Homo sapiens: one gene and its partners. The protein of the gene in region 2 purifies or fractionates together with the protein of the main gene of each other region. This does not show direct contact. Each region holds a gene or a part of one and is shown on either strand. Other genes may lie near its edges.

What was found.
Region 1: the proteins of PGBD1 (region 2) and ZSCAN25 purify together in Homo sapiens (affinity purification with mass spectrometry; one large-scale study listed by BioGRID and IntAct). This does not show direct contact.
Region 3: the proteins of PGBD1 (region 2) and ZKSCAN1 purify together in Homo sapiens (affinity purification with mass spectrometry; one large-scale study listed by BioGRID and IntAct). This does not show direct contact.
Region 4: the proteins of PGBD1 (region 2) and GPR156 purify together in Homo sapiens (co-immunoprecipitation; one large-scale study listed by IntAct). This does not show direct contact.
Region 5: the proteins of PGBD1 (region 2) and KLHL13 purify together in Homo sapiens (co-immunoprecipitation; one large-scale study listed by IntAct). This does not show direct contact.
Region 6: the proteins of PGBD1 (region 2) and ZNF213 purify together in Homo sapiens (affinity purification with mass spectrometry; 2 studies listed by BioGRID and IntAct, with this or other methods). This does not show direct contact.

What each region holds. Positions count from the first base shown.
Region 1 is NC_000007.14:99,613,603-99,619,745, reverse strand, and holds the start of ZSCAN25 (zinc finger and SCAN domain-containing protein 25), read right to left. Parts: upstream 2,801-6,143; 5' UTR 2,730-2,800; exon of another isoform or gene 2,505-2,729; intron 1,612-2,504; exon of another isoform or gene 1,537-1,611; intron 1,222-1,536; 5' UTR 1,095-1,221; intron 699-1,094; 5' UTR 614-698; intron 186-613; 5' UTR 140-185; coding exon 1-139. UniProt on the Homo sapiens protein: May be involved in transcriptional regulation.
Region 2 is NC_000006.12:28,287,410-28,292,882, reverse strand, and holds part of PGBD1 (piggyBac transposable element-derived protein 1), read right to left. Parts: intron 1-5,473.
Region 3 is NC_000007.14:100,021,458-100,026,930, reverse strand, and holds part of ZKSCAN1 (zinc finger protein with KRAB and SCAN domains 1), read right to left. Parts: intron 4,037-5,473; exon of another isoform or gene 3,877-4,036; intron 3,513-3,876; 5' UTR 3,425-3,512; coding exon 2,999-3,424; intron 2,778-2,998; coding exon 2,624-2,777; intron 1-2,623. UniProt on the Homo sapiens protein: May be involved in transcriptional regulation.
Region 4 is NC_000003.12:120,163,028-120,167,623, forward strand, and holds the end of GPR156 (probable G-protein coupled receptor 156), read right to left. Parts: coding exon 4,005-4,596; 3' UTR 2,451-4,004; downstream 1-2,450. UniProt on the Homo sapiens protein: Orphan G-protein coupled receptor involved in the regulation of hair cell orientation in mechanosensory organs of the inner ear.
Region 5 is NC_000023.11:117,906,421-117,911,893, forward strand, and holds part of KLHL13 (kelch-like protein 13), read right to left. Parts: intron 3,677-5,473; coding exon 2,881-3,676; intron 1-2,880. UniProt on the Homo sapiens protein: Substrate-specific adapter of a BCR (BTB-CUL3-RBX1) E3 ubiquitin-protein ligase complex required for mitotic progression and cytokinesis.
Region 6 is NC_000016.10:3,139,415-3,144,025, reverse strand, and holds the end of ZNF213 (zinc finger protein 213), read right to left. Parts: intron 3,391-4,611; coding exon of another isoform or gene 3,338-3,390; coding exon 2,679-3,337; 3' UTR 1,222-2,678; downstream 1-1,221. UniProt on the Homo sapiens protein: May be involved in transcriptional regulation.

The DNA of each region.
Region 1 (6,143 bases), on a different chromosome or scaffold from region 2:
GCCGAAACCTCAGCCGAAAAGTCTCTGGACTAGGGTCCTCCCTTCCTCTGCCCCATGGCAACTCTTTCTCCAGTTTCACCACAGGAATACCCAACTGCTGCTGAGGAGCTTCCGCCATCTCTGGATGCTCTTTAAGCATCTTCAGACTCCCTCCGAGGAGACTGAGAATGACTGCATCAATGACCCTTTTGAGAACAAGAGACACATGAAAGGTCAGCCCATCCCAGTTCTGTCTCTACATCAAGGAATATTCCACTGGAGAACACAGTAATTACCTTTTACAAGGCATTTTCAAAAGACTGAACACAGATCCCAAAAGTCAGGTCAATTCAACATAGTAATCATTTGCTAAGCAACTATTAGGTACAGAGACTAAACAGAAAATGTCTAAGATTTTGCTTTTATACCCACAAATAACTTAGGATCTCACTGGAGAATAACACTACAATCAGAGAATAATATATAATGGGTTATAACTGGGTGAGTCACCAGGGCCTACTCTTCCAATACTAAAGGAAACATACATGCAACACACAAACACACACATATACACACACAAGAGGCAGGCAGAAACAACAAATAAAATAGAAAACAAGACACACTGGGAGCTTACCCTCCTGAAACTCATATGCTGGTACAGCAGACAGAAAAAGTCAAATGGAAGCAACTCTTTTAAAAACTGCAAGTGGAGACAAGTTCTAGAAAGAAAATAAGTAGGGTGCTCTGTTAACAGGGGGCAACTGACTTGAAGAAGGCTTTTCTAAAGACATGATACCAGGCTGACTCAAGGATGAGAATGAGTCAGTCATTCTAAGAGCATTCCAGGCAAAAGCCCTGAGGCTAAGAAATTACTCTGGGTGTCCAAGAACAAGCCATATCCCAGTGTGGCTTCAGCAGTGACGAGCAGAGCTGCACCAGAAGAGGTGGCAGAGGCAGACAGAAACCAGATCACCCAGAGCCTGCGCCACAGAAAGAATTATGAACTTTATTCTTATTTCTTACTTTAGCGAGGAACTACATGTTTTATAAAAGTCATTCTGCCTGTGTGTTGACAGGGAATAGGCTAGAGGTGGCAAGAGGGAAATGGCACTTACAGTGATTCAAGCAGATGATAAGGGCTTAGATCAGGGTGGTGGCAAAGAGTCAGACAAAATCAAGACGTATTTTGGAGATTAAAACCAACAAACTTGCTGATGGCTTAGATGTGATGGTGCGCTCAACCTGAAAAAGACAATGGAGCAACATATATACCATTATGACAAATGACCTAAAGATTTCTAACTTGTACAGGCTTTACTCTTTAGAAAGCATGTGAACACATATTTCATCTAATACTTAAAACACTTCTGTAGGATGAGTGCTACTCCTCCTACTTCTCAGAAGAAAAAAAAGAGACTAGATGATAACTGCCTCCCAAAATACATGGTACAGATTGAAAAAAAAATGTGAAGTCAAAAAGAGAGAAAACTAATCTAAGTCCAAGTACTCAAGGAAAAGAAGAGGCTTGAAGTAGACTGGAGAATGAGTCCTATTTACCTCCAAGTGGATTATGCGGAAGACCTAGACTGGGAAGACAGACTTGGAAGTCCAAAGCACCAGGGGAAGGAGATCCTGCTTGTCAGAAAACGGAAAGATCACCTGACTGGAGCAGAGAATGGGCAGCTGGCAGGAGGCACACCCCAAAGCTTCTGCTAAATATTCTATTGTGAGTTTGTGTATTTATCTACCCCCACTTAAACCAAGTTTATATTTTCAGTCTATTCATTGACTCTGCAACATTGAGATTTCTCTTTCATTCCTTTCTAGCTATTGCATTGGTTCACTCCACTAGTGCATTTAATGCACTACAGTGCAAATGTTTACCCATGTGTCTCCCTCTAACAGATTCCCTGGAGGCAAGAAAGATCCTCATTCATCTTTTATCTCTGCCATTTGACAAATAGAAATTGCCCCATTGCTATTCTTTATCTCCCCCCACCCATTGTGACTCTTTTGTTTTGTTTCTGAGACAGGATCTCAGGGTTTTATCACCCCAGCTGGAGACCAGTGGTGCGATCACTGCAGCCTTTGCCTCCTAGGATCAAGCGATCCTCCCACCTCAGCCTCCCGAGTAGCTGGGACTACTGGCGAGTGCCACCATGACCAGCTAATTATTTATTTTTGTAGAGACAGGGTCTCCCCATGTTGCCCAGGCTGGAGTGCAGCGGCATGAATGTAAGTCAGTGCAACCTTGAACTCCTGGGCTCAGGCGATCCTCCTGCCTCAGCCTCCCGAGTAGCTGGGACCTCAGGCGCGTGCCACCACGCCCGGCTACTTTTCAATTTTTGTAGAGACAGGGTCTCGCTATGTTGACCAGGCTGGCTCATCACTATTCTTTAAATAAGTGTCCTATGTGATTACTTTCACTTTGCACAGAGTTCTGCTTTGGTTCAAGATCTCTTCGGGTTCGTGGCCAGCCCTGCACTAAGCCAAGCCTGGCAGAGCGGGATCAGCCTCGCTCCTACCTGAGCCTACAGCGCGGCGGCCCCTCAGCGTCCAGACCCGCAGGGCCTCGGGGCCGCTGAAGGCAGCTCCTGAGAGACTTGCCGCCCTCAGCCGGGGCTGAGCGGAGGGAGACGGGCTCTACTGCAACCCCGCTGCCGCCGAGCCCCGTAGCGGCACCAAAACCCGTCCCCGCGCCCGTTTACCACTTCGCCCGCCACCCGCTGCGGCCCTGAAGAGGCTCTCACCCGCCGCGGCCCTGAAGGGCCTCTCACCCGCTAGGGTCGCCAGTGCTATCCGCGGTCCGGAAGTGAGCTGCGGACGCTGTTAGACAGGTGCGTAAGGAAAGACTCGCTTCCGTGTCCTCTCTAGGATGCTCGGAGGTCTCGGCGGATGCGTCTCGATGGTTGCTGATCCCAGCCTGCTGTTCCGAACCCGGCGAGGCGAAGACCACCAGGGCTTCCCCAGGATTGACTGCCCAGCTCGAGGCGCTCTGTGGCTAGGCCCCTTCCACTTCCGTGCCATTTCACCTGCTTGCCCTCCGTGGAAAGGACTCGGTGCATCGCCAGATACACTACTGGACACAGCACCTGCCCCAAGGGGCTTTAGAGTCCAGTCGGTCAATGCGCGACTATTCCGGCTGCGAGGGCCTTGCGCGAGGCGTAGGGGCAGAGGAGATAGGGGGCGCACTGGATCTAACCGGCTCACTTAAGAGGCTCCTGACCCCGGGTAGTGTGCGTGCGTGTGTGTATGTGTAGTCAGGGAAGGCTTCCTGGAGGAGCCAGCATCGGAGCTGTTTTTTGTGGGGGGTTTTTGTTTGTTTGTTTGTTTGTGTTTTTTGAGAAAGAGAGAGAGAAGTCTTGTTCTGTCTCCCAGGATGGAGTGCAGTGGTGAGATCATAGCTCACTGCAACCTCGAAGCCCTGAGTTCAAGCAATCCTCCCACCTCAGTCTCCTGGGTAGCTGGGACTTTTTTTCAATTTTTTGCAGAGAGGGGGATCTCTCTATGTTGCCCAATCTGGTCTCCAACTTCTGGACTCAAGCGATCTTCCCCCCTTGGCCTCCCAAAGTGCTAGGACTGCAGGCGCAAGCCACCGCGTCCAGCCTGAAGGCAGTCTGTCTCAACTGGGTGGCCCAGTGTTACTCCAGAATCCACTCAGGAAACAGGAAACCCTCTTGTCTTACTCTTCTCCAGCACTTTGCAAAGTGTCTGGTACAATATTTGCTAAAAATATACACTTATAGAGTAAATGAACTCCTAGAATATAACATAGGTGTTAGACCATCTCACTTTATCCTCCATGTCTCTGTCCCACTTTCATATTTTTCTTGTCTGCCCATATTTGACTTGGGTTTATGTCTTCACCTTTTTATTAATAATCCACTTTTCAGCTGTTTCTAATGTGCTACAAAATCCACAGTTGTTGTTTTTTTGTTTTGTTTTGTTTTGTTTTTTAAGAGACGAGGTCTTGCTGTGTCACCTAGGCTGGAGTACAGCGGTGCTATCATAGCTCACTACAGCTTCCAACTCCTGGGTTCAAGCAATCCACCTCAGCTTCCCAAATAGCTGGGACTACAGGCATGAGCCACCACACCCAGCTAATCTTTAAAAAATGTTTTGTAAGGACAGGGTCTCACTATGTTGCCCAGGCTAGTCTTAAACTCCTGGGCTCGAGCAATCCTCCCCACTTGGCCACCCATATTTTTGTTTTAATTAATATATTTTTTCCATTTCTAGAATTTCTATTTGATTTTTTCCAAATATTCTAGATCGATCTTTTAAAAGAATTTACCGATATGTTTAAGCTTTTCTTTGTACATAGTAAATATAGTTGAGCCTGATAATTCTGAGATCTGAAGTCCCCTCAGATATCTTTCTGTGATCTGCTATTTCCACTGTTTTTGATGGTGCCACTTCCACCAGCAGTACCTAACAGCATCCATTTCCCATATCTCATCATCTCTGCCATTATCCAGCTTTAATTTTTGCCAATTGACAGGTGAAGTAAATGTTACCTCATTTTTTAATTTGCATGTTCTTCATTATAAGTGAGGTCAGTCATTATTCCTACTTTCATTAACTTCTTGCCTTCCCTTTTCTGTGAACGGACTTTTCTTTGTGTTTCTATTAAGCTGTTTATCTCTTTCTTATTGATTTATGAGTTCTGGGGACATTATATAATGTCCCTAGAGCATTAAATAATGTCCCCAGGACATTAATTGGGGGCATTCCTCAAACATACCTTCCTCGAACATACCACAGTACCTTGTTTCCTTGTGTGACAGGCTGCTCATTTTCCTTGGAAACATTTTTGTGAAATTTCTTTGAGTTCCAGGATAAAGTGAATTTATCTAGAGAGGGTTGATATTGTTTTTCTTCCATGTAAATTTTTTTCTTGTCAGCATCACCAGTCCAAGGTCATTGTAAACCAAATTTATAATTTGAGGATTTTTGAACCATGCTATAATAGTAATATGAATTTGGGCTGCAAATATTGAGGGGTGATTTGTGGTTGCAACTTCTCAACCACAAATCTTTGTGGTTTTGTGGTTGTCCAGCGTGGCACTAAGACAAATTGCCTTGCTGGCTCCTGGTGGTAGGGGTACGGGAGAGGAGACTTATCTCTCACCCTTACATTGATAACCCAGCCCTTGTCTATGGCCATACCACCCTGAATGTACCGGATCTCTTCTGATAATCCACACTTTTGCAGTCCTTGGTTTATGGGGGGAAAGCTCTCTTATCAGATGCTCTTCCTTGAGTAAACTTTAGGCATAGTTTTAAAAAATCAAATCTCTGCAAGATGATTTCTCTAGGTATTATTCTTTACTTTGATGTTATCTTATAATTCATTACTATTTTGTTACCTGATATCTTTAGATTTTATTATTTATTTTATCATTTCTGTTGTTTTTGGCAGACGAATCAGCCCAACTATTTAGTCTGCCATGTTATCAGATGTAGGATGTCTCCAGGCTTCTTTATTTATATGTTTTTATTTCTTCCAAATAGGACACTTAAAATTACATTTTTACTGCCTGTATAATATTCTGTCCTCTGAATACACTATACTTTTAAAAATTATTTCAACATGGGGGAAATAATCTAGAATATACTCTTTTATTTTTGCTATTATAAATAACCTGGAACAAGCATTCCTTTGTATAAATACTTAACCTCACCCCTGGTTATTTCCTTAGAATAAATTCCTAAAATTCAACTTCTGGGCCACCAGGTATGAATATTTTTAAACCTATTAATGCATATGCTATTATAAAATGCTTTCCAGAAAGTTCATGCCAATTTACATTCCCATCAAATGTATATGAGAGTGCTCAACTCACCAAAATTGGCTAAGACTGGTTTCTAATCTTTGTGGATTTGATTTTCATTTAATTTTTTTTATTTGACCACTTTTATAGGGCTTTAGTAAAAATTCTTCCCAAGTTCTGGCAATAAATCCATCATCAATCCTAGCTTTCACTGGTGGCATGAATTTCCATTCTTTGTGTGTTTGTTTGAGACAGAGTCTTGCTCTGTCACCAGGCTAGAGTGCAGTGGCGCTATCTCTGCTCACTGCCACCTCTGCCTCCTGGGTTCAAGCGATTCTCCTGCCTCAGCCTCCCAAGTAGCTGGGACTACAGGTGTGCGCCACCATGCCC
Region 2 (5,473 bases):
GTTTGTCAGCAATTCTTGGTGTTCCTCGGCTTGCAGATGTGTTATACAAATCTTTGCCTCAGTGATCACATGGCATTCTCCCTGTGTGTGTTTTCACTTGGGCATTTTTCTTTCTTTTTTTTCAACCCCTTGGTCAATTTGCAAATATGGACTTCTTATAAGAATATGAGTCATTAGATTAAGGGCTCACCACATGAATTTTTTTTTCTGATTTTTGTGAAGAATGTCATTGGTATTTTGATAGTGATTACACTGAATCTGTAAATTGTTTTGGGAAGTATTGTCATTTTAATAATATAAATTCTTCCAATCCATTAGAATGGAATATCTTTCCAGTGTTTTTGTGTCCTCTTCAATTTGTTCCATGAGAGTTTTAGTTTTCCTTATACAGGTCTTTCACTTCTTTAGTAATTAAATGCTAAATTATAAATTATAAATAAAATACTAAAAAATATAAAATGCCTAGGGAATTTAAACACTAAATTTAACTTAATTTGGTGTTTAAATTTTTAGTATTTAAATTCCCTAAGTATTTTATATTTTTTGTAGCTTTTGTAAATGCGATCATTTTCTTGATTTCTATCTCAGATTGTTCACTATTGAAGTATATAAATGCTACTAATTTTTGAGTGTTGATTTTTTATCCTGCAACTTTACTTAGTTTGTTTATCAGCACTAACAGTTTTTTTGGTGTAGTCTTCAGGTTTTTCGAGGTATAAGATTATATCATCTGCGAACAGACTAACCTGACTTTTTGCTATCCGGTTTGGATGCCATTTATTTCCTTCTCTTGCATAATTGCTCTGGCCAGGACTTCGGGTATTATGTTGAACAACAGTGGTGAGATGGGCATTCTTATCTTGTTCCAGTCCTTAGAGAAAAGGCCTTCAGTTTGATGTTAGCTGTAGGTTTGTCATATATGGCCCTTATTTTGAGGTATGTTCCTTTTATACCAATTTTGACAAGGGTTTTTATCAAAAAGCAATGAATTTTATCAAATGCTTTTCAGCATCTATTGAAATAATCATATGGTGTTTGTTCTTGATTATATTAATGTGATATATCACATTTATTGATTTGCATATGTTGAACCATCCTTGCATCCCTGGAGTGAATCCCACTTGATCATGGTGAATGATCTTTTTAATGTGTTGTTGAATTCAGTTTGCTAGTGTTTCATTGAGAATTTTTGCACCTATGCTCATCAGTGATGTTGGTCTGTAGTTTTCTTTTTATTTTGTATCCTAGTCTAGTTTTGGTATCAGGGCAATGCTGGCCTCCTAGAATGAATTTGGAAGTAGTCCCTCCTCTTCAATTTTTTTTTTTTTTTTTGAAGAATTTGAATAGGATTGGTATTAGTTCTTTTTAAATGTTTGGTAGAATTCAGCAGGGAAGCCAACAGGTCCTGGGCTTTTCTTTGATGGAAGACTTTTTATTACAGATTCTATCTCGTTACTTGTTATTGGTTTGCTGAGGTTTTCTATTTTTTCATGGTCCAATCTTGGTAGTTGGCATGCATCTAGGAATTTATCCATTTCTTCCAGGTTTTCAAATTTATTGTCATAGTTGTTCATAAGTCTCTAATGGTTTCTTTGTATTTCTGAGGTCTCAGCTGTTATGTCTTTTTCATTTCTGATTTTATTCATTTGGGTCTTCTCCTTTTTTGTTTGTCCAGCTAAAGACTTGATTTTGTTTATCTTTTAAAAAAAATCCAACTTCTTGTTTCATTGTTCTTCTGGGTTTTTTTTTTTTTTTTTTGGTCTCAATTTCAGTTATTTCTGTTCTAATCTTTATTTGTTTCCTTCTACTAATTTCAGTTTGGTTTGTTCTTGCTTTTCTAGTTCCTTGAGGTGTATCATTAGGTTGTGCATTTGATGTCTTTTTACTTTTCTGATATAGGTGTTTATTGCTATAAATTTCCTTCTTAGTACTGCTTTTGCAGTATCCCACAAATTTTGATATGTCACATTTTCTATTTTCATTAGTTTCAAGACATTTTTACATTTCCTTCTTAATTTCTTCCCTGACAAATTAGTTGTTCAGAAGCATGCTATTTAATTTCCACGCGTTTGTGTAGTTTCCAAGGTTTTTCTTGTTATTGCTTTCTAGTTTTATTCCACTGTGATTAGAAAAGATACTTGATATGATTTATATTTTTTAAAAATTTGTTCAGATTTGTTTGTGGCCTAAGATATGGTCTATTCTTATGTCCCACGTGCTGATGAAAAGAATGTGCATTCTGTAGCAGTTGGGTTACATGTTCAGTAAATATCAGTTAGGCTTATTAGATCTAGCATGTAGTTTAATTCCATCGTTTCTCTGTTGACTTTCTGTCTGGATGATGTGTCAATTACTGAGAGTGGGGTGTTAAAATCTCCTACTATTATTGTATTGCAGTCTAACTCTCCTTTTAGATCTATTAATGTTTTCCTTATATACCTGGGAGCTCTGGTGTTGCATGCATAGGTATTTATAATTGTTATATACAGCCGGGCATGGTGTCTCACGCCTGTAATCCCAGAACTTTGGGAGGTCAAGGTGGGCAGACTGCTTGAGGCCAGAAGTTCAAGCCAGCCTGGGCAACATGGCAAAAACCCAGGTCTACAAAAAATACAAAAAATTACCCAGGCATGGTGGCACACACCTGTGGTCCCAGCTACTTGGGAGGCTGAGGTGGAAGGATCACTTGAACTCGGGAGGCAGAGGTTGCAGTGAGCTGAGATGATACCACTGCACTCCAGCCAGAGTGAAAGAGTGAGACCCTATCTCAAACAACAACAACAAAAAACCTCTGTGGCTAAGTGATTTTCTCTTATAGTATGCCTTCCTTTGTTGCTATTTTTAGTGAATTTATTATAGGTTTTTGCATTGTAGTTATCATGAGGCTTACAAAGAAGACCTTCAGATATAATAAGTTATTTTAAAGAGATAACAACTTATCTTAGATCCCAAATACAAGAGTAGAAACAAAGGCAGAAACACACAGAAAAAAATTATATGCTTTAATTCCATTCCTCTAGATTTTGACTTTTCGTTGTCTCAATTTATATCTTTATATTACCTATCTCTTAACAGGTTGCTAGCCATTATTGTTTGTCTTGTTTTGTTTTAAAGATATGGTCTCACTCTGTCTCATGTCTCCAGGTATAGCATCAGGATCTTACCATGTTGCCTGGGCTGGTCTCAAACTCCTTGTCTCAAGTGATCCTCCCACTTCAGCCTCCCAAAGAACTGGGTTTACAGGCATGAGCCACTGTGTCCAGTCCTATTATTGTTTTTGATAGGTATGTCTTGGGGCTTCACAGTTGTGAGTATACTGTATGTCACTATTACAGTAATAAAGTATTCTGGGTTTGTCCATGTACTTAATTTTATCAGTGACTTTTATGCCTTCAAAAGTTTTCTTTATGCACATTAGTCTTCTTTCCTTTTAGACTGAAGAATTCTTTAGCATTTCTTGTAAGATGTGTCTGGTGGTGGTGTACTCTCTCAGCTTGTTTGTTTGGGAAAGACTTTCTCCTTCATATATGAAAGATAATTCTGCTGGATACAATATTCTTGAATGTCAGTTTTTTTCTTGGAGTACTTTGAAAATGTCATTCCACTTTCTCCTGGCCTGTATGATTGCCATTGAGAAGTCTATTGCCAGACAAGTTGGAGCTCCTTATTTGTTTCTTGTCTCTTGCTGCTTTTCAGATCCTCTCTTTTTCCTGGACAGTTGAGAGTTTGATTATTATATGCCTTGGAGTAGTCTTATTTGGGATGATTCTGTTCAGTGTTCTCAGATCTTCCTGTACCTGGACATTTATATCTTTCACAAGTTTTGTGAAGATTTTTGTTATTATTTCTCTATTTTTAAAATTTATTTTTAATTTATTTTATTTTAATTTTTTTGAGATGGAGTCTTGCTCTTGTTGCCCAGGCTGGAGTGTAATGGCATGATCTCGGCTCACTGCAACCTCCATCTCCCAGGTTCAAGCGATTCTCCTGCCTCAGCCTCCCGAGTAGCTGGCATTGCAGGTGCCTGCCACACCTGGCTCCTTTTTTTTGTATTTTTAGTAGAGACGGGGTTTTGCCAGGTAGGCCAGGCTGGTCTCGAACTCCTGACCTCGTGATCCACCCACCTCAGCCTCCCAAAGTGTGGGATTACAGGCATGAGCCACCACGCCTGGCCTATTCTTTTTTTTTAAATAGATACAGGGTCTTGCTGTGTTGCTCAGGCTGGTCTCAAACTCCTGGCCTCAAGCAATCCTCCTGCCATGGCCTCCCAAAGTTCTGGGATTACAGTTGAGAGCCACTGCACCCGGCCTATTGTTATTTCTTTGAATAAGCTTTCTATTCTTGCTCTTGCTCAGCTCCAAGAGCAGACTGTTTAAAGGATGGCTGCCTCTAATGTGTGGTCTCCTTGCACACACTTGATTATCCATCATTCCACTTTCTGCCATGAGCTAAAGCAGCATGAGATCCTAACCAGATAGGCTGATGATCTTGGACTTCCCAGGTTGTAGAACTTTGAGCTAAATAAACCTCTTTTTAAAATAAATTACCCAGTCTCAGGAATTCTGTTATTAGCAACACAAAATGGACTAAGACAGAGCCTGTTTCCAAATCAGGTCACATTCACAGGTACGTGGGGTTAGGATTTTCATATATCTTTTGGAGGGACATAATTCAATTTACAACATCTAAGCCTTACTTCAATTAAGGGCCCCACTTTCTCTGTCTAGTCTTGTATTATCTGACTCAATACTAGTTTCATTTCACTGTCCACCTATACCATTGCTCTTTGATTTTCTTGGGCTTCTGGTCTTCTTATTCCTCCTTAATTTGAACTTACTAATTATATTTCAGTGCAAACACCTGACTACGTTGTTATTTCCCTAGTTATAATCACATCAAGCACTTGCATTTTGAAACACTACTTTTAAAATAAATAACTTTTTTGTTTCTACATTATACCATTAAATTACATTTAAGGGAATTATGTTGATTTTCAGAATGTGCATGAGTAGGTTTTATTTTCTAGATACTTCTTATCAGGAAGTATTTGTTAATAACAGGAGGCACTGGGTCTGATAGAATTAAAAATTAATTAGAAGCCATAGAAGAGGACTGAGCAAGTGTCTTGAGGAAACTGATGTGGCAGCAGTATGCAAGAGGACTTAAATGAGAGAGTTATTTTTTTTTTGTAAATAAATGACTAGGAAAATGAATGAACCACTAATAAGAAAAAAAACCAGAGTCCATTTTGTGAAGAAGATGTTAAGTATTACCTTAGATATATAGAATTTCCATTATTATCACCAAGCATTAATTGCATACATGCTGAATATAAAGTAGTGTGAGAAAGGGCCCTTATTCTAAAGCTGGGGAGATAAACCAGAGACTTCAAAGGAGAAAATATCAGTTACTCAACATCAAATGAGTGGAGCACTTTCTGAAACCAGGAGCCTCACTCCACCCCTCACTCCCA
Region 3 (5,473 bases), on a different chromosome or scaffold from region 2:
GTATAAAATAAAAATTTTTTTAACTAGAAAAACCCCTATAGAATAGGGGGATAAAAAATGTTTTTGTATAGCTGTGCAACATGTTTGTCTTTTGAGTTATGTTATTACAACAGTCAAAAAGTTAAAAAAATCAAAAAGTTCATAAAGTAAAAAAGTTACAGTAAGCTAATTTATTATTTGTATTTATTTATTTATTTTTTTTTTCTGAGACAGAGTCTCACTCTGTCACCCAGGCTGGAGTGCAGTGGTGCAATCTTGGCTCACCACAACCTCTGCCTACAGGTTCAAGCAATTCTTGTGCCTCAGCCTCCTGAGTAACTGGAATTACAGGCATGCACCACCACGCCTGGCTAATTTTTTTATTTTGTAGAGACAGTGTTTCACTATGTTGGCCAAACCAGTCTGAGACTCCTGGCCTCAAGTAATCCGCCCACCTTGGACTCCCGAAGTGCTGGGATTAAGCCATGAGCCACCATGCCTGGCTGATTTATTATTGAAGAAACAAAAATTTTAAAGATAAATTTAGTGTAGCCTAAGTGTACAGTGTTTCTACAGTCTATGGTAGAGTAGTGTCCTAGGCTTTCACATTCACTCACCACTCACTCACTGACTCATCCAGAGCAACTTCCGGTCCTGCAAGCTCCAGTCATGGTTAAGTGTTCCATACAGGTGTACTTTTTTTTTTTTTTTTTTTTTTTTTGAGATGAGTTTCACTCTTGTTGCTCAGGCTGGAGTGCGATGGCATGACAATGGTGCGATTTTGGCTCACCGCAACCTCTGCTGCCTGAGTTCAAGCAATTCTCCTGCCTCAGCCTCCTGAGTAGCTGGGATTATAGGCACCTGCCACCAGGCCTGGCTAATTTTGTATTTTTAGTAAAGACGGGGTTTCTCCACGTTGGTCAGGCTGATCTCGAACTCCTGACCTCAGGTGATCTGCCTGCCTTGGCCTCCTAAAGTGCTGGGATTATAGGTGTGAGCCACTGCGCTCAGCCAATTTTTGTATTTTCAGTAGAGACCGGGTTTTAACATGTTGGCCAGGCTGGTCACAAACTCCTAACCTCAAGTGATCCACCCACCTTGGCCTCCCAAAGTGCTGGGATTACAGGCGTGAGCCACTGTGCCTGGGCTAAAAATCTTTTATACTCTGTTTTTACTTTTTCGATGTTTAGATACACAAATACTTACCACTGTGTTACAATTCCCTACAGTGTTTAGTACAGTAACATACTGTACAGCTTTGTAGCGTAGGTGTGGAGAAGGCTAGACCATCTAGGTTTGTATAAGTATACTTTATGATGTTCGCACAACAAAATCACTTAACATTGCACTTACCATAACTTATCCCTGCCATTAAGTGATAAATGTACTTTTAGCATTCCTTGTCTTTACATTCTAAGCACATACTTTGATTTTAAAACTGGATAAATGTATTACATATTTCCGTCAAAAGAGAAAAAACAAGTAACATGACTTTTTATTTATATGACTGTGAACTGATCTTTTTTCGTGTTCCTCAACTCCCCTCAAAAGTTCTTCCATTCTTTTCCCATTGTTTGAAATTTCTGAAAATAACCTAGAAAAGACTGATGCTATAGTTTTTTTTTTTTTTTTTGGAAACAGACTCTCTGTCACCCAGGCTGCAGTGCAGTGATTATTTTTATATATTTTAAATAAAATGGACCTTTAAAAAAGATTTATGATCCTTTTGAAGATAATTCATGACATACTAAAATGTTTTAAAACCTAGGCTGAAAATAATGACATCTGTTCCCAATACTTTCCTATTAAAAATGTGCTGGACATCTGGAATGCTGATAATTCAATAAATAATGCCTACCAGGTTCATTACGCATAGTTCATTTGCCTTCGTAGTAACATTTAACTCCTGAGATTGGTCTGTAAGTTGTATTTTCCCCAATATTTGGTAATAATGACAACAATGTAGAATAACTAAAAACAAAAAACAAGCATGCAGCTTTTTTTCATTTTTTTTTAAATTTTTAATTAATTCTTTTTTTTTTTTTTTTTTTTTTAAGACAGTCTCGCTCTGTCACCAAGGCTAGAGCACAGTGGTACGATCTCGGCTTACTGCAACCTCCACCTCCTGGGTTCAAGTGATTCTCCTGCCTCAGCCTCCCGAGTAGCTGGGATTACAGGAATGTGCCACCATGCCTGGCTAATTTTCATATTTTTAGTAGAGACAAGGTTTCACCATGTTGGCCAGGCTGGTCTCAAACTCCTGACCTCAAGTGATCTGCCCGCCTCAGCCTCCCAAAGTGCTGGGATTACAGGTGTGAGCTACCGTGCCGAGCCTAATTCTTTTCTGTAAGTAGCTTTTGAGACAGGGTCCTTGCTGTGTTGCCCAGGTTGGAGTAGTGGCATGATTACAGCTCACTGCAGCCTCAACCTCCTGGGCTCAAGCAATCCTCCCACCTCAGCCTCCTGCGTAGCTGGAATCACAGGTGTGCGCCACTATACCTGGCTAATTTTTCTATTTTTTGTAGAGATGGGGTCTCGCTACGTTGCCCAGGACTAACATGCTTCTTCATCACAGGCACTCAGCAGCACAAAGACTCTCGTCCTGAATCATTTCCCTTCCCCTAAATGAAACCTTGCTTCTTACCTCGTGACTGTAAGAGGCGGGGTTTCCGAGACGAATGTTTGAAGTGGGACTGGGTGGCCTCGTGATGAAGGTCAAAGCTCGAGGACTCCTGAACTGGATCCAGAGGCACCATCCCCCTTGCGAGCATCTCAGGTCCATGAACTTGACCTGGGACCTGAAGACAGACAGGTTGGGCTTGTGGGTAAATCACTTTGTAAATGGGAATTAAAATATTTAAAAACAGACCATGAGTATGCCAGTGGATGCAGGAAGAAAGCCAGAACATTTTTAAGACAGAGTAACCACCTAATAACCTAAAGCCTGCCAATACTTCTCCTGGCTCCAGTTTCAACGTCTGTGCCCTGCTCACACATAATAGGTTTCACCTCTTTTTACCTGTTGTCCTGATAAATCAAGCTCCAAGTCTTCTAGAAGGGTCACGGCCTCCTCTCCACTATCGGGGCGGTATTCCTGCAGCCAGACCTGGAGCTCCTTGGGCAGGATGGAAAGAAACTGCTCTAGCACCAGAAGCTCCAGGATCTGTTCCTTGGTGTTTATTTCTGGCCGCAGCCACTGATGACAAAGTTCCTTCAGCCGACTGAGAGCCTCTCGGGGCCCAAAAGTGTTCTGGTAACAGAAGCGCCTGAAGCGTTGGCGGAATATCTCTGGGTCTGGAGGAGGCGTGTCCTGTAGGGTGGAATCCTGCCCCCACATGTGGTCTTCCTCATCTTCCTCTTCCACCTTCACTATTACGATACCATCCTTCTCCTGTGCAGCCTGTGGGGACAGACCCGTGGCTTCCCGTGATTCAGCAGTCATCATTCAGGCTCCAGGAACTGACTTGATCCAAACAGGGTCTGTGCTCACCTTTATGTCCTGGGAGGTTTTATGATGTGTTTCTTTACTATTCCTGAAGTATAAAAAAAAAGTCATTAGTACGTACCTTTACAAAAAGTGATCTGTGCTGCTAACACTTTATAGGAGGCAGCACATCGAGGCACTATCAGAACGCTCCTGAGGCCGGGGGTGGTGGCTCACGCCTGTAATCTCAGCACTTTGGGAGGCCGAGGCAGGCCAATCGCCTGCGGTCAGGAGTTCAAGACCAGCCTGGCCAACATGGTGAAACCCCGTCTCTACTAAAAATACAAAAGTCAGCAGGGCATGGTGGCAGGCGCCTGTAATCCCAGCTACTCGGAAAGCTGAGGCAGGAGAAACGCTTGAACCCAGGAGGTGGAGGTTGTAGTGAGCCGAGATTACGCCACTGCACTTCCTACCTGGGAGACAAGAAGTTAAACTCCGTCAAAAAAAAAAAAATCCTGACAAATCGAGGAAAAAACTGTACAATCTCCACTGTCACTTCATATATCAAGATTTGCAAACAGAAACCTCAAACAGGCCGACTCCACCCTCAGGGTGTTTGCTTGGAGTCAGAGTGATTTACCTGCAGGTTGACAGCAGGTTACGAAATGGAGCATTAACAGTGCCCAGCCCAGAGAGCTGAATGTTAGCAGAGTGCCAGGTGCCAGGCTTAAAGCAGTACACGCACCATCTTCTTTTGTCCCTACAACAGCCCTAGCAGGTCGGCCAAACTGTTAAGTGCTGTTTTACAAATGACATAACTGAGGGTTAGGTTTGCTCAGTAGTAGGTGGCTGCCTACTGGAGTCAATATTCAACCAAATTTGAAGCCCTGGGACCTACTTTTGTACCATCCAGCTACTTTTGCTATTTTTATGAGTGACTTGGGCAGTTAAATTGTGGTTTCCAAAGTACAAGATGATCCGCAAAGGATACAGAAAGAAAATAATTGGAATGTCTGTATCTTAAAAGAGAGAGAAATTAAGCTATAAATTGACACTAATACACTTACTTAGTCTGTGCTGACCTGTCACAGGTGTTGTTCATTTTAGACATTGTGATGTAGACTGGTTTATCTGAGACCAGTTATGTGAAATAATGGATTTCTAAATCTAGCTTTGGCTGGGCGCAGTGGCTCATGCCTATAATCCCAAAACTTTGGGAGGCCAAGGCGTGCGGATCACGAGGTCAGGAGATCGGGACCATCCTGGTCAACATGGTGAAACCCTGTCTCTACTAAAAATAGAAAAATTAGCTGGGCGCGGTGGCGGGCACCTGTAGTCCCAGCTACTTGGGAGGCTGAGGAAGGAGAATCACTTGAACCCAGGAGGCGGAGGTTGCAGTGAGCCGAGATCGCGCCACTGCACTCCATCCTGGCCACAGAGCGAGACTCTGTCATAAAAGAGACAAGCAGCTTTAAAGATTCTTGTGGCCAGATATGGTAGCTCATGCCTATAATTCCAGCCCTTTGGGAGGATGAGGCAGGAGGATGCTTGAAGCCAGAAGTTTGAGACCAGCCTGGGCAACATAGCAAGACCCTGTCCCTATGAAAAAGAAAAAAATTAGCTGGGCATGGGGACTGTGTCTGCAGTCACAGCTACTCAGGAGGCTAAGGTGGGAGGATTGCATGAAACCAGAAGTTTGAGGCTGCAGTCAGCTACGATCACGCCACTGCATTCCAGCCTGGGTGACAGAGCAAAGCCCTATCAGGAAAAGGAAAAAAAAAAAAAAAAAGATTCTTATAGAGAAACTGCAATTACAGGACACACTAATAATATAAACAGATGTGAACAAGAAGAAAATGGCACAGATGAAGCTTCTATCTAGAGTAAGGTTTTAGCCACATTAGGAGGTAAAAACCAATGTCAGTCTAAATCAAAGAAAAAGTCACCAATGAGTAATCAGCTTCTTTAAAGAAAGTGTGAAGAAAGGGCAATTACAGGAACAGCTGTATGAAATGGTTCCATTGTTATGTAATTTAACTGCCAAAAATGATGTCAAGTATCCAGGAAAAA
Region 4 (4,596 bases), on a different chromosome or scaffold from region 2:
ATCTCAAAAAATAAAAATAAATAAATAAATAAATAAATAAACAAACAAACCCTTCCTTAACAGAGCCCAGATTGTGTTACTGGGAAAAGTGCAGTGGCCGGAGGGAATAGAGAAACTGTTTTGTTTGGAGTTCTGAGAAAGGGGACTCAGGAAGCTGTTGGTGATAGAGACAAACAGGTCTTTCTTCTGCTAATACTGCTTGTTACTCATTAACAAGCCTGCAAAGAAAACGTCTTTAAGACAAGAACTTTATCAAGAACTTTGCGCTTCTCTTCCATAAACTTCATTGCCCTGTTCCCCAACCCCCCAACAAACTTAAAGTACTGTCATTTTCAGAATTCAGTGACTCCTGGGTCTGCAGGTGATGTAGTTTCATGCTGTTAACTCACCGGAAGGCAGTGGAACCAGATGCGTGTTTTTCCTCCTGCTCCTCCGCTCTGGCCCCAAAACAGAAACTTTGCCTTCCTTTGTTTCACCCATTTATCTACCCAGAAATCCACCCATCTAGCATTTGTTGGGTGTATACTTTGTGCAAAGATCTGTAATGGCTACTCTAGAGGAGAAAAACGATGGAGAAGACATGCTCAATGCTTTCAGGAGCTTGGAATCTGTGGAGGAGACACATGTAAAGATAATACGATAAACACAGATACAGAAGAGATTTTATAGAACTTGCATTGACTTTTCTCTTTTCCTCTTTCAAAGTGATATCATTCTTTAAAAACAGGCCTCCTGCCTCTGATGCTTTTTTTCTCCTCTATGAACTCTAGGAAGGCCAAGTTGAACCTTTAAGGAAAGAGGGTTTGTGGCAGACCAGGACAGGGAAAGACATTGGGATCAGGATGGAATCCAAATGTTGAAATTCCAAGATTTTCAACAGCAGAGGACATATGCTGGGGTTAGAATCAGGCCTGGCTCCATGCTATGCCTTAGGACCAACAGAGACATGTATAGCTCAGATGACAGCAGCAGAGGCAATGTTTACTTCTCCAGGATTCCTTTGCACAATTTACTGCCCTTTCTTCAAGAGCAGAACAACCAAGAGCATGCCAAAAGTCATGGCACATTCAGCCCTTTAAGGATTTCATCACTGGATTAGCTGATCTTAGGTAAAAATTTAGGAAAGGAGGTGGGGAAGGGTAGGGGTGATGCACAGAGTAAATGATACATTTGGTGGCAACATTTTGTTGAGCACAGTTATGGTGTTTGCACATTGCTTTTGAACAAAATGATAAATTTCAATCAGGTCTGGCAAGCGTTACAAAGTCATTCTAGGTCAAATGGATAACAGAAGCCTCTATATAGTTGAGTCCAAAATACAGACCCTAAGACAGCCTTCCTTCTCTTTTTTCTCTTTCTTCTTTCTTTCTTCTCGAAACGGAGTCTTGCTCTGTCACCCAGGCTTGAGTGCAGTGGCACCATCTAGGCTTAGTACAACCTCTGTCTCCCGGTTCAAGCAATTTTCCTGCCTCAGGCTCCTGAGTAGCTGGGATTACAGGCATGTGCCACCCACGCCCGGCTAATTTTTGTATTTTTAGTAGAGACGGGGTTTCACCATGTTGGCCAGGCTGGTCTTGAAATCCTGACCTCGTCATCCGGCCGCCTCGGCCTCCCGAAGTGCTGGGATTACAGACGTGAGCCACTGCTTCCAGCCCATCCTTCCTTATTTAACTAGGGAATCAATCAGCTTTCTTTGGGGATGGCTGGGAAAGGTTGAAGAAAGAATGTATGCTCCACCTGAGCCTTGAAGGATGAATAATTCACAAGGGCACAAAGTGGGAAAAAAAATTCTAAACAGAAGGATGGAGATGTAGAAGGGCGGGGATGGTGGGACTAAGGTTCTAGAAGCAGACAGAGTGAGAAGGCTAGAAGGATTGCCAGATTTAGAGTCCACATGAATGAATGGTGGGCTGCTAGTGGTGGCATGCTGGGAGGAAGGGAGCTGCAGGAGGGGGAGCCCAGCCACAGGACCCCCAGGGGCAGGAAGAGTCCAGGGTCTCCAGGGTTTCCTATGTCCATTGAGGGAGTGTTTCTGGGATAAGAGGCTTCTTAGGGAGAACACAGAAGAATCTGTTCAAATGGAACTTTGGTAGAAGGTACACTGGGACCCAGGGTAGCCCGGCAGCAGCTCTGATGGCTTCTCTGGTTCCCCTTCTTTGGGTGGGTCAGCCTTCTCCGGGCCCCTCCTGGCCAGCCCCAGATTACAGTTTCTGAAAAGACTCCTCTCGGGAGTCATTTCTCTTTTATTATGGTACCACTTGGACAGCACACACACAGCACAAGAAACTGCAAACCCATGCACAGAATAAATTAGGAAATTCCTGTTTAAAAGTAGATGATAGAAGAAGCTGTGCTTCCAGGAGGGCCTCATGGTTCAGTGCCTGGAGAGTCCAGGGGTGTCAGCAGCCCCCAAGATTCCATGATAAATTGATGATACATTTAGAGCCAAATGCCCCCCTCTGAGAATATTTAATAAGGCCTGAATTCCTTCATGCAAACATGTGCACACCCACAGATGTATACACAGGACTCGGGGCAGGGGACAGCCTGGACATGACAGCCAGCTCAGCAATAAGCACAGTGGACCCAGGTGTGCTCTCCCTGTGGCTCTGGTGGTGGCTGAGTTCCTCGCACTCATCCTTCACCAGCTCCCCAGCTCCCTTGGGAGGTGCCAGTGTGGCCTTTGGCAGTGAGGAAGTGGAGGCCCGTTTCCTGAGGTGAGGACCCAGGTCTATTATTCTGGACTATAGGGGAGCACATCCCAGCTTTCTTACATGAGCCTTGCTTTGTTGTCTCGTCTGCCAAGCGTCACCTGCCATTCCCAGAAGAACACATGAAGCCATGTGTCCCTGGGAAAACCCACCTACTTGAGTCCCAGGAGCTGTGTGTACATCTCTGTCCAGCAGTGTGATGTTGCGGGAAACTACCTCATTTCTCTAAGCCTCATAATCCTTGTCTGTAAAAATGAAAGTGTCTACTTCACAGGGTTATCAAAAGGAATCACAAAAATATGATATTGCCAAGTACTATGCTGGACTCAAGTGAAATATTCAAATCCTGTTTTCTTTCCTGTTTTCGTGTCCCTCGTGTCTTCCTTTTTATTTCTCCATTTGGCTTCCAGGTTTATGTGTCTGTTGGTAGTCATGTAACCCCAATGGAACCAAAAGCACTCTTGACCAACAGGTTCTCCCATACCCCAACAGAAATTGCTGGTGTGTGCCTCCCCGCAGTACAAAACTGCATCAGTGGGTGAATCGAGGATGAGCCACAGGACAAGGGGACAGTGGGGACAGTCAGGACCTCAGGTACATCCGATCCCAGGGGAGAGATCTGGGAAGCCTGCGGGCGCATGGAGATCTGTCTCAGAGAGGAGGGTAAAGTGCCATAATGGTGGAAAGACACCATCAAGAAATAGTGGTGTAGGGGTGGCTCTGAGCTGGGTCTGGCCAGAAGCTGGAATCTAGGGAGGTGCTGTTCACAACATTCAGCAGAAATAAAACCACTGCCTTCCAGGAGTGGGAGGCCCAAGGATGTAGGAGACTTATCTTCCTGGTAGGTCTGTCCACCAAAAGGCCAGTTTGATGGGTCACAGTCCACACCTCAAGTTCTACAGAAATTTCCCATGCATCTCTCCATCTGTCTGTCCATTCAGCCATCCATCTGAATATATTAAGAGTTTTACAGAATGTAGGCTGACCTGGACAGAAAATCCTATGTGTTCATTCAGCACCTTTTATCCAAGGAGTCAGTGTCTTTCATAGTCACTCAACTGGAGTCTTTTATAGTAAGGCTGCGAGGTAGTAACAGGACAGGCAATGCCTCTCTTTTTATAGATCAAGAAGTACTCAAAGTAACACAGTGAGCCTAGCTGAAACATGGTATGGGCTGGTCAAATGCAGGGCACTAATCTGTTCCCCAAAGACCAGAAATTGGCTCTTCTCCTGTGGGCCTTGGTACAGCTTCTCTTGGACTGACCTCTGTGTCTAGACCAGCTCTGTTGCTTTTCACACCAGCGTGGGTTTCAAGTCATCTTTGAAGTTCACAATAGGCTTGGAGCGGGCCCACAGCTTTTCCCAGGAAGCCAGCCCCCCAGTAGGCTCAGGGTCAGTGTCTGATGTGCCACTGTCACTAGAGTCAGAAGAGCTCTGGAAGCAGATTTCACAGTAGGGCCGGTGGCAGCGGCAGAAGAACTCATCTGAGCTGCTGGACTCAGTATCAAAATAGCTGTGTTGAGAAGACAGGGAGGCACAGCCTGAGGGCACTGGGGGCCACAGCTGCCACTGTTCAGGCAAGTCAGGTGAGGCTTTGGAGAGGCATGGGGCAGCAGGACTTGGGGCCCGGCCAGAACCAGAAGGCTGGCGAAGAAAGGCTGCTTTGCTCCCTCTAGCCCCCTCGGGCTCTGTCTGGCTTTGTTTGCTGCCCTCCAGGGTACCTGGTCTGTCTTGAGGATCTGAAGGTAGTGAAGGCTTCCTGGAAGAAGGTCTTCGTACTCTGGAATCAGTAGTTTGTGGGGCCAGGCTGGGGCTGTCCCCATTCTGCACATGTAGCCTGCTGTGTGCCCCAGGAACAGTCCTGTTTGCCCGATGCCCCACAGAT
Region 5 (5,473 bases), on a different chromosome or scaffold from region 2:
AAGGCAGGTTTCATCAAGTTTGGTTACCTCCGTAATACAGGATGTGACGTGACAAGACAATCTACTTCTTGCTTCTATTTGAGTATAACATAGAAAGAACTCAAAGGGGGTGGAGTGGATCAGAAACAAATGAAACCTCTTGCTTCTTGGCTTTATCTAATGACTCTTTTTGGCCTTTTTTCTCCTGAAATCAAGACTCTAAATTTGAATGCACTTACTAAGTCAATCACAAAATATTTTTTAAACTTCCAATATATTATATAATAAAATGTTTAGTACAGAATGCGTTTGATGGGTATGCTGATTTTAAGGGACGCAATCATTTTCTACAAAAGTTTAGCTACTTATAGGTTACAAATCTATGAGGTCATTATAGATTTGTAATCTATAGATCATTTCAAATGGAATAAAATATCAAATAATTGGATGATAACTAGAATTAGAATTCTTGGAATAGATGGTTTGTGCCTGTATTATAATGACATGTGCCTTTTTTTAAATGCAGTTTATGAAATAAGATTAAAATGGACCTATATTTACCATTAGAGGGGAAATTTTTTTAAGTCATTATCCTTAGGTTAAGCTTTAGAAATTTTATTGTTAAAGCCTAAATATGAATTTAGGAATACCCTAAGAAAAGCATGATTTCCTTGTTTCTTTTCCCTTTCAAAATGAAACACAGAAGACTGTTTTTAATCAGAGATGGAGGGGTGGTTTCTGAAGGTCAGGAGCAAGGATTCCTGTGTATGAGCCACTTGCCCAACAGTGTGGTCTATTTCTAGTTCCTAGATGGGTATACCATAGGAGCAGCTGAAAGAGAGTTGGGATAGGTTCAAAGAAAGAAGCCTCTAGCATCTTGGTTTTATGTAATGACTCTCCTTGGCCTGAAGATTAAAAACTCCCAGAAGAATATGGCTTTTAATTAGTATTAGGAACTATATATTGAAAGCTAAGTAGCCGCATATTAACAGGGGTGATAATATCAACAAGCAAGGACTGACTTTGAAAAACGGAGCTACTTCCTTTGAGAAAAGAAGACTGACCAAGTTAATGACCTGTTATTTGTGAAGAAAATATTTAAGAAAACATTATCTTATACAGGGATTTTCTAAGAAACAACCAAGTCACTACTTGCACCTTCTAGATATTTCCAGATACCGCAAATTTAAAATAGTATAATAACATGAAAATAATGTGTGTAGGTTGACTGAGGAGGCCTAAAGAACAATTGTACACTAAGGACACTTATGCCTTAACTGCTTTTAAAAGTCCAATTATTAAAATATATTGGAAAACCTATGCAGTTCATGATCATGCGACATAGTCCAACAATCTAGAAAATCTGGTCTTAGAAAAAAATATCATTGTAACAACAAAGAAAAAAAAACTTTGGGTAGAAAAGATCAGGAAAAAGACCATGTCACTAACAAGAAAGGGTTTTATAAACAGGAAAGTATAAAAGCTGAGAACAGTTATTCTATTCTCTGATAAATAGCTTAGTCTCAAATACATTAAACTATCTTTTATTTCTTAGAATATTGAAAAATAAAGATTCTGAGAATTACTCTGAACTTATCCAGAGCCAATGCCAATATTTTGAACTTTCCCAGCTCTATGGAGCCTGGAATTGGTCAACTACAAGGACATTATTTATTTATTTATTTATTTATTTATTTATTTATTTATTTATTTATTGTGTTCAAGCAATCCTGCTTCAGCCTCCCTAACAGCTAGGACTACAGGCATGAGCCACATCTGGCTTTCTTTCTTTCTTTCTTCCTTTCTGTCTTTCTGTCTTTTTTGTATTTTTTATTTATTTACTTATTTATTTATATTATTATACTTTAAGTTCTGGGGTACATGTGCAGAACGTGCTGTTTTGTTACATAAGTATACACGTGCCATGGTGGTTTGCTGCACCCATCAACCTGTCACCTACATTAGGTATTTCTCCTAATGCTATCCCTCCCCTAGCCCCCCAACCCCAGACAGGCCCTGGTGTGTGATGTTCCCCTCCCTGTGACAGACTCTATTTATAATAGAGAATAAAATAATTGAAAACAAGGCCAAACAATAATGGTAATGACAAATATATGTCACAACATAAAATGTGGACTTCCTGCCTTTATTTTTGGAAAAATTATACTATCCCAATTTTATCTGAAATAATAAAATTTTACCTTTTTGGGTTAATTTACATAGCCAAAGTATTCTACATCAAAGTACATTTATGACCAATTTTATACTGGGAAGACAAAAAGGTGACCATCAAATAAAGCTTACCAGATGGGCTTATGGAAAAGAAAACTATCTGATATTACGTCAACAGAATTATTTTTAAAACAGTCATAGATCATAATATTCACAGTGAACAAACTTTGGATAATGTTGAACTTTGTACATTTAATCTATAAAGAAAATTATCTTTGTGGCCACTAATAGGTAACATATTTTGTAAAAGAAGAAACAATGAAAGTTTTCTGTAATGAAGGATTGTAACCTGTTCAGTAAAATATCATATGGCCTTTTAAAAGCAGAAAATGAGAAAACATGCCAAACTTCTATCCAAGACCTTATTATAATTTAAATGAGCTAAGTATACTCTTTAGATGAACCTTCAAGATGAAGACCATATATACTGCACAGGTGAAATATGCTACAATATACTGATGTATTTGTAACGTACAATTTGTTCCCTTGCCAACGATATATGCCCAGATAAGGCATAAAGATGGTCTTCAATATTTTCTCAGAAAAATAGTTTTAAAATAAAACCCTAACTACATTTTTATCTGATTTTACAGGACTGCTTATTTTATGATTTGATAAGAATTTCTGAGTGAAGAAATTTGTCTCTATGCTTAATATAAATGCACTTACGCAGTTCACCTGCTGCATTTCGCCCACCAACTGCATACAGATATCCTTTGAGGGCACTTAGGTGGAAGAAGGTGCGCTTTTCATTTAAAGATGCAACTTGCATCCATTTATTGTATCGAGGATCAAATCTGAAGACTGTATCAACTGCCGTTTTTCCTTTTGTATCATAATTACTCTGTCCGCCAACCACATAGAGAAAATTTCCAATGACGGCGATGCCATGCTGGTACCTTGGGGCATCCATGGGGGCTAACGATTTCCACTCATGGGCCTTTTCATCATACATGCGCAATTCCTTACTGACAACCAGCTGCTGCCTCAGCACTCCTCCTAGTGTAACCAAGTGAGTGGTGTCAGACCTAATGGCAGTCCTGTCTGACTGCATAACTGGCTGCATATATGGCATCATTTGGTAATTGCTGGCTTCCAAAAGCAAATTCACACAAGTATTGTCAGTTCTCATGAAATCCACCGTTTGCACGTAATTAATGAGCTCCTGTGGTGTCATCAGTGGAAATCGTATGTTCTTCATTAATTTTGCAGCAAAGTCCATCCGAGGCTCTTCCAGGCGAAGCCAACGACAGGTAGCCTTAAAGAGCTCAAGTTCAGTACAGTGCTTAAGGCTATTACTGGAAAGCACGAAGGCAAGACGCTCAAAAGGGAGTTTCAAGAACTCCCCTGTGCTCAGCAATGCAGGAAAATTCTTCAAGACGAAACTGTTAACGTATTTATCCACTTCGGTTAGATTGTAGGTGTTGGCAATCCGTCCAACTTCAACACAGTTGTCTAAAGTGACCTATTAAGCCAATTAAAAAAAATTAAAACATGACTACTTTCATGGCAATCACATCTTGATAGCACAAATACCTGTTCTAGAATAAGAGTAAATTATGCTTTTAATGTTCAAATAGATACAAATAGGATTCTTATCTAAATGTATCAATGATCTACAAACAGATAATTTGCAAACCACCTTTACTTAATCCACTAGAAGGCTGACTAAAAGAAAATGATCAAAGTCAGTAAGTTAGAAGCTACTCTAAGAAACAATGTTATAACTGGAATATGGCCAAACCAGTTACTCTTCTCTCCTCAAAAATGTATCCCACCCCCACCCCCAAAATACTGATAAAATTCCTGCCAGATGGAAACTTGGGAAAATAGAAGGTTGTTCTATTATGATTCATCTCAATCCACTTCTTAGTCATTATTCTTAAAAATACCACACAGCTAGCAGATCCATGAACAGAAAAGCTCTAATACCCAAACCCTAGATTTCCCTTTCACGTAAATAGGCATCACTCATTACTATCATTCATTTTGGTTCCTTCAAAGTTATCACTCATAATGAAAATAATTTAATAAGATAATTATCCCTAGGGCAAATTAATTTTCAACATTATTTATCTGGAAATATAAGCAAGGAAATGTCTTTCTTAAGGGCAGAGGGGTATATCTACAACAAATCTCTCATGTAAATGAGATTTTGGTATCTGTGATGACTGCTTCCATCTGGGCAACACAGCTTTCCTTAGCCACTCTTACTTTCAGCACATTCTGTTTCTCTCTGGCGTCAACATGAGCCCAGAACCATCTCCCCACCATAGAGCAAAATATACCATAAAGTGAAAAGCTGACAAAGAAGAGAAGTGACAGAGAGGCCTTTCCTCAGTAGAACCTCTTTTCAATGCTCTAATAACTGACTCATCAAAGGAAAAATAGGAAAAATAATATTAGCAAATATAATACAAAGAACAAACCACAAAAACAAGCCTACAATAAAAAATGCCAGTGTGTATGTATACAAACAGACACAGATCACAGGCAAAAGACTTAAATGTTTGGTTGTTTTTAAAATTTTGTCAGGTTATGTGTCCTCAATATCACACAAACTTTATCAATGTATTGTTAACCTCACACCTGTATAGTTAACAGATTTGGCAGATGGTTAAGAGAAAATAAAATAATCCTCCTGTTGACATTTCTTTAAAAACTGAAACAAAGCTAAAAACATTACTCCTCCGCATAAAATGACAGCCCAGTTAGGATATAATATCACTGAAATCTCTAAGGTTAACACACACACATTGTTATTTTCATAGATTATTTTAATTAGACTTTAACTTATGGGATATACATGCAGAACGTGCAGGTTTGTTACATAGGTATTACACGTACCATGGTGGTTTGCTGCACCTATCAACCCGTCATCTACATTAGGTATTTCTCCTAATGCTATCCCTCCTCTAGCCTCCCAGCCTCCAACAGGCTCTGGTGTGTGATGTTCCCCTCCCTGTGCCCATGAGTTCTCATTGTTCAACTCCCACTTATGAGTGAGAACATGTGGTGTTTGGTTTTCTGTTCCTGTGTTAGTTTGCTGAGAATGATGGTTTCCAGCTTCATTCATGTCCCTACAAAGGATATGAACTCATCCTTTTTTATGGCTGCATAGTATTCCATGGTGTACATGTGCCACATTTTCTTTATCCAGTCTATCATTGATTTATTACTCAAAAAGAATTTGTGCTCTTTTAAGTAGCTGATTTGCTTTACAAAAATGTTTAATTGCTTATTTTACTTAGTAGCTACATAT
Region 6 (4,611 bases), on a different chromosome or scaffold from region 2:
AGGAAGGCCATAGGGCGAGACGGGGCTTCCTCCAAGCACCAAGCTCGGAGCTCACCTCCTGGCCCTGGGCTCTCAGTGCCCTGGGTCCTAACCCTTGCCCTCTACCCTAACGAGTACTATCAGCTCTGCTTATGAGCTGAGCTGGACTCTGCCCCATCCCTGGAACCCTGGGTCCTGGCCCCGCTCTCCCAGCCTGGGCTTCATTCTCTGGCTCCTGCTGGTGACTTCTTTGCTGGCACTGACATGCCCCTACCCGAGCCAGGAACCTGTGCTCAATCCTATTCTTAGCTCCTGGCCTACGTGCTTATCTGATCTCGTTACACCCGAGTGTCTCCATTTGGAGCCAGCCACCGCCACCAAGAAGTCCTTGTACCATCCCGGCCACCCGCCACACGCATGCACACAGCACCAGGCCCCCAGAGGTAAAAATCACCAACTGGAATCAGCCTTGTCCACAGCGAGACCTTGCTTGCTTCTTACGGGAAACGGAGACCATGACAGTGACCGCAGGATGATGTGTGCATGGAAGGTTGGCTAAGAAAGGCCTAGGGGCAGAGAGGGCTGGCACATGCACACCTGTTACCAAGGGACCAGAGCGTCTTGTCCACCGGCCCCCGCCTCCCCTCAGCCAGGGGCCCTGAGGCCACTAGCAGGTGAAAGAGAAGGAACCAGCATGGGTGGAAGGAGGGGTCGTGCCTGGATGATCACTAGTTTTGACCACGCACCCACCAGCCCTTGGTGGGTCCCGGCCTGGGGCTCCTGGTAGGGAGAAGTTGGATGTCAGGGGCTGGTGGGAAGGGCAAGCCCGCTGTCAGCCCCTCCTCCAAGGGACTCAGCCTGGGGCAGCCTTGAGTTCCAGATCCCCAACACGCAGCAAGAGGGTCCCACCACTGACCAAGCAGCGTCTATGGGCCCTTCTTCCTTTCACAGTTGTGGGAGAGGAGTGGCCTGGTGAAGACCCTGAGTCCTGCTCAGCTCCCCGTTCTGCTGGAGCACCGACGGTGCTCCCAGAGCAGGGCAGGCACTAGCTGACACAGGGGGACAAGAGTCCCAGGGGACACGGCTGCCCATTGGGGCCCAGCCGACCTGGACGCCAAGGACGCAGCTCCGCCTGGTCACGGTGCAGCAGCATGTGCCACCAGGACACAAGGCCAGGGCAAGGGGCATATATTCCAGGTATCCCCACCCTCCAGCTACCGAAAGAACAGAACAGCCTGGAGGTAAGTTTTCACGTTTATTAATACTCTTCTGTTGCCCTTTGGAGGTCTGAGGGGGAGTCCTTGCAGGGCCTCTGGTCTGTCCCTGTTCATGGAAGGCAGTGCTCAGGAGGCAGCAGCAAAGTGCCAATGAAGCAGGGCGTTAGTGCCGATGGAGCAGGGAGCCAGTACCGGTGGAGCTGGGCGTTGGTGCCAATGGAGCGAGGCACTGGTGCCGGTGGAGCGGGGCGTTAGTGCCGATGGAATGGGGCACCAGTGCCGTTGGAGCTGGACGTAGTGATGATGGAGCAGGGTGGTAGTGCCGACGGAGCTGGACATAGTGATGATGGAGCGGGGTGGTAGTGCCGATGGAGCCGGACGTTAGTGACAATGGAGTGGGACACCAGTGCCGATGGAGCAGGGCGTTAGTGCTGATGGAGTGGGGCACCAATGTCAAAGGAGCGGGTCATTAGTGCCGCTGGAGTTGGGGCGTTAGTGCCAATGGAGTGGAGCATTAGTGCTGATGGAGTGGGGCGCCGAGTGGGGCATTAGTGCCGATGGAGCGGGGCCGATGGAGTGGGGCGCCGAGTGGAGCATTAGTGCCGATGGAGCAGGGCGCCAGTGCCGATGGAGCAGGGTGCCGGGGCCGATGGAGTGAGGTGCTAGTGCTGATGGAGTGAGGTGCTAGTGCTGATGGAGTGCTAGTGCTGAGTCTGGTGCAGCCCCACCTCTGGAGGAAAAGATGGCAGCCAGGCGCCCTGTTCTTGGTCTCCAGGGTTGGCCTCCTGTCGCTGGAGCCACCATTATCCTCACCAGATTGGTGGGCAGGTGGCTCTCAGAGCCTCATGCTAGGGCAAGTAGGCCGAGGGCAAAGGCAGGCCGAGTCCGTATGGCCAGGACAGGGCAGAGTGGTCATGGCCTGGAAACGGGAGTGGGAGGGGGCCAGAAAGCCCCTGCCGCCGTGACTAAGACCCGCGGTCCCACAGGTGTGGGCTGTCTCTCCCAAAGTCCAGCAGCCCCCTGGGGGGCCAAGGCCAGTCCTCCACGCCCACTGAAAGGCACAGGTTGGTAGGGCAGAGGCCTGACCCATGGACCCACCCCACAGGGTGGGGGCCAAAGAGCCACACAGTCAAATGAGGCTCGGGGGCTTCTGGGAAGGGACCTAGACCTGAGTCCTTGCCACCCTGCTGTCCCTGCCAGGAATGTGTTGGGGCTCCAGGAAACTAGAGGGGAAGAGGAACGCTAGGCGCAGAAGGGGGAAAGAGGACAAGATCGGGGGCGGGAGGGGAAGGCTTCCGTTCCCTTTGAGCGCTGGGCAGGTCCTCAGAGCCAAGCAGGGCAGGCGAGCTCCGAGTGTGAGGTACCCTGGGGTCCCTCGGACAGCCCGGGAGGTGGCCACAGATGGAAGGAGAGTCCCAGTGGTGAACAAAGCAGGATGTGCCGTGGCTGGGCCTCCCCCGGGTTTCCGGCCAAGCCAGCTGCTCACCCCACGGGCTGGGCCATCTTGGCGTGCAGGCTCTGATGCGCGATGAGGTGCGCGCGCTGCTTGAAGCTCTTGTCGCACTCTCCGCAGCCGAAGGGCCGCTCACCGGTGTGCACACGCCGATGGTCCAGCAGGTAGGAGCGCAGCGAGAAGCTCTTGCCGCAGTCGCTGCAGCCGAAAGGCTTCTCGCCCGTGTGTATGCGCTGGTGGTCGGCCAGGTAGGCGCTGCGGCTGAAGCTCTTGCCGCACTCGGAACAGGAGAAGGGCTTCTCGCCCGTGTGCACGCCTTGGTGGCGCACCAGGTCCGAGGAGCTGCGGAAGCTCTTGTCGCACTCAGGGCACTTGTGTGGCTTCTCGCCCGTGTGCGTGCGCTGGTGCCGCGCCAGGTCCGAGCCCCAGCGGAAGCGCTTTCCACACTGCCCGCAGCTGTGCGGCTTCTCGGCTGCCAGGTCCCGGAACTGGCGCCGGCGAGTGGGTGGCCGCCCCCGTCGCGCGCCCACCACTGGGCCCAGGGCCGCCCTCGGCCGGTTCTCGCTCTCCCAGGCCTCAGCCTCCTCGGGGCTCCAGGACACAGTCACGTCGCTGCCTGTCTGGCCTGGCACCACCGGCACCATCTCCTGCAGCAGGGACTTCTCACTTTGGCCTTTGAGCCCAAAACCTGCAAGGGGAAGGAGGCGACCTCTTCAGTCCCACGCGGTTCTGGGGCCAGAGCTGAGGTGAGGAAGAAACAAGGCTGGGGAAAGCTCCCTGGCCTCCAGGTTCAGAAAGCCCTGGGTTCACACAGCTGAATTCTCAGGTTCCTCATCTATAAAACAGGGATGATTGGCCAGGCGCAGTGACTCAAGCCTGTAATCCCAACATTTTGGGAGGCTGAGGCGAGCTGATCACCTGAGGTTAGGAGTTCGAGACCAGCCTGGCCAACATGGTGAAACCCCGTCTCTATTAAAAAATGCAAAAATCAGCAGGGCATGGTGGCGCACATCTGTAATCCCAGCTACTCAGGAGGCTGAGGTAGAAGAATCACTTGAACCCATGAAGCGGAGGTTGCAGTAAGCCGGGATCATGCCATTGCACTCCAAGAGCGAGACTTTGTCTCAAAAACAAACAAAAACCCAAATAAATCAGGGATGATGAAAAAATTCGGCAGAGCAGCAGTCTGAATAAGCCTCTGATCCCGCCTGCATGGGCCAGCCCCCTAAGCCATCTGTGCCCTGCAGGCCACACTGGGATCCAATGTCCCACTCTGAACCCCAGATATCAAGCTCCACAGCAGAACAGATTTATAGTAATTCTGAAACTTTTCAAGGGCCGGGCGCGGTGGCTCACGCCTGTAATCCCAGCACTTTGGGAGGCTGAGGCAGGCGGATCATGAAGTCAGGAGTTCGAGACCAGCCTGACCAACATGGTGAAAACTCGTCTCTATTAAAAATACAAAAAAATTAGCCGGGCATGGTGGCTCATGCCTGTAATCCCAGCTACTCAGGCTGAGGCAGGAGAATTGCTTGAACCCGGGAGGTGGAAGTTTCAGTGAGCTGAGATCACACCACTGCATTCCGGCCTGGCGACAGAGCAAGACTCCATCTCAAAAAAAAAAAAAAGAAAGAAAATTTTTCCCAACCGTCACAGTCGGAAACTGAGGAGCCAAACTGGTCTAGCTAGTGTGGCTCCCTTCACCACGCAGGCTCTAGTTCTCCAAACTCAACACAGATCTGGACAGAGGTCGCAGCCCATCCTCCTGGGAGTGTGACTGAACAAGATGATCCCTGATGGTGCTGAGAAGGGGCCTGGCATGGAGAGGAACCTGGTAAGTGCAGTTCTGACGAGCAGGGGCCCAGGCTGGTGAGCAGCTGGGGTTCCCCGTCAGCACCCCTGCTCCTAGCAGCCCAAGGTGGCCTCACAACTGTGCCTGATCCAAGTCCCAGCTGTGTCCCT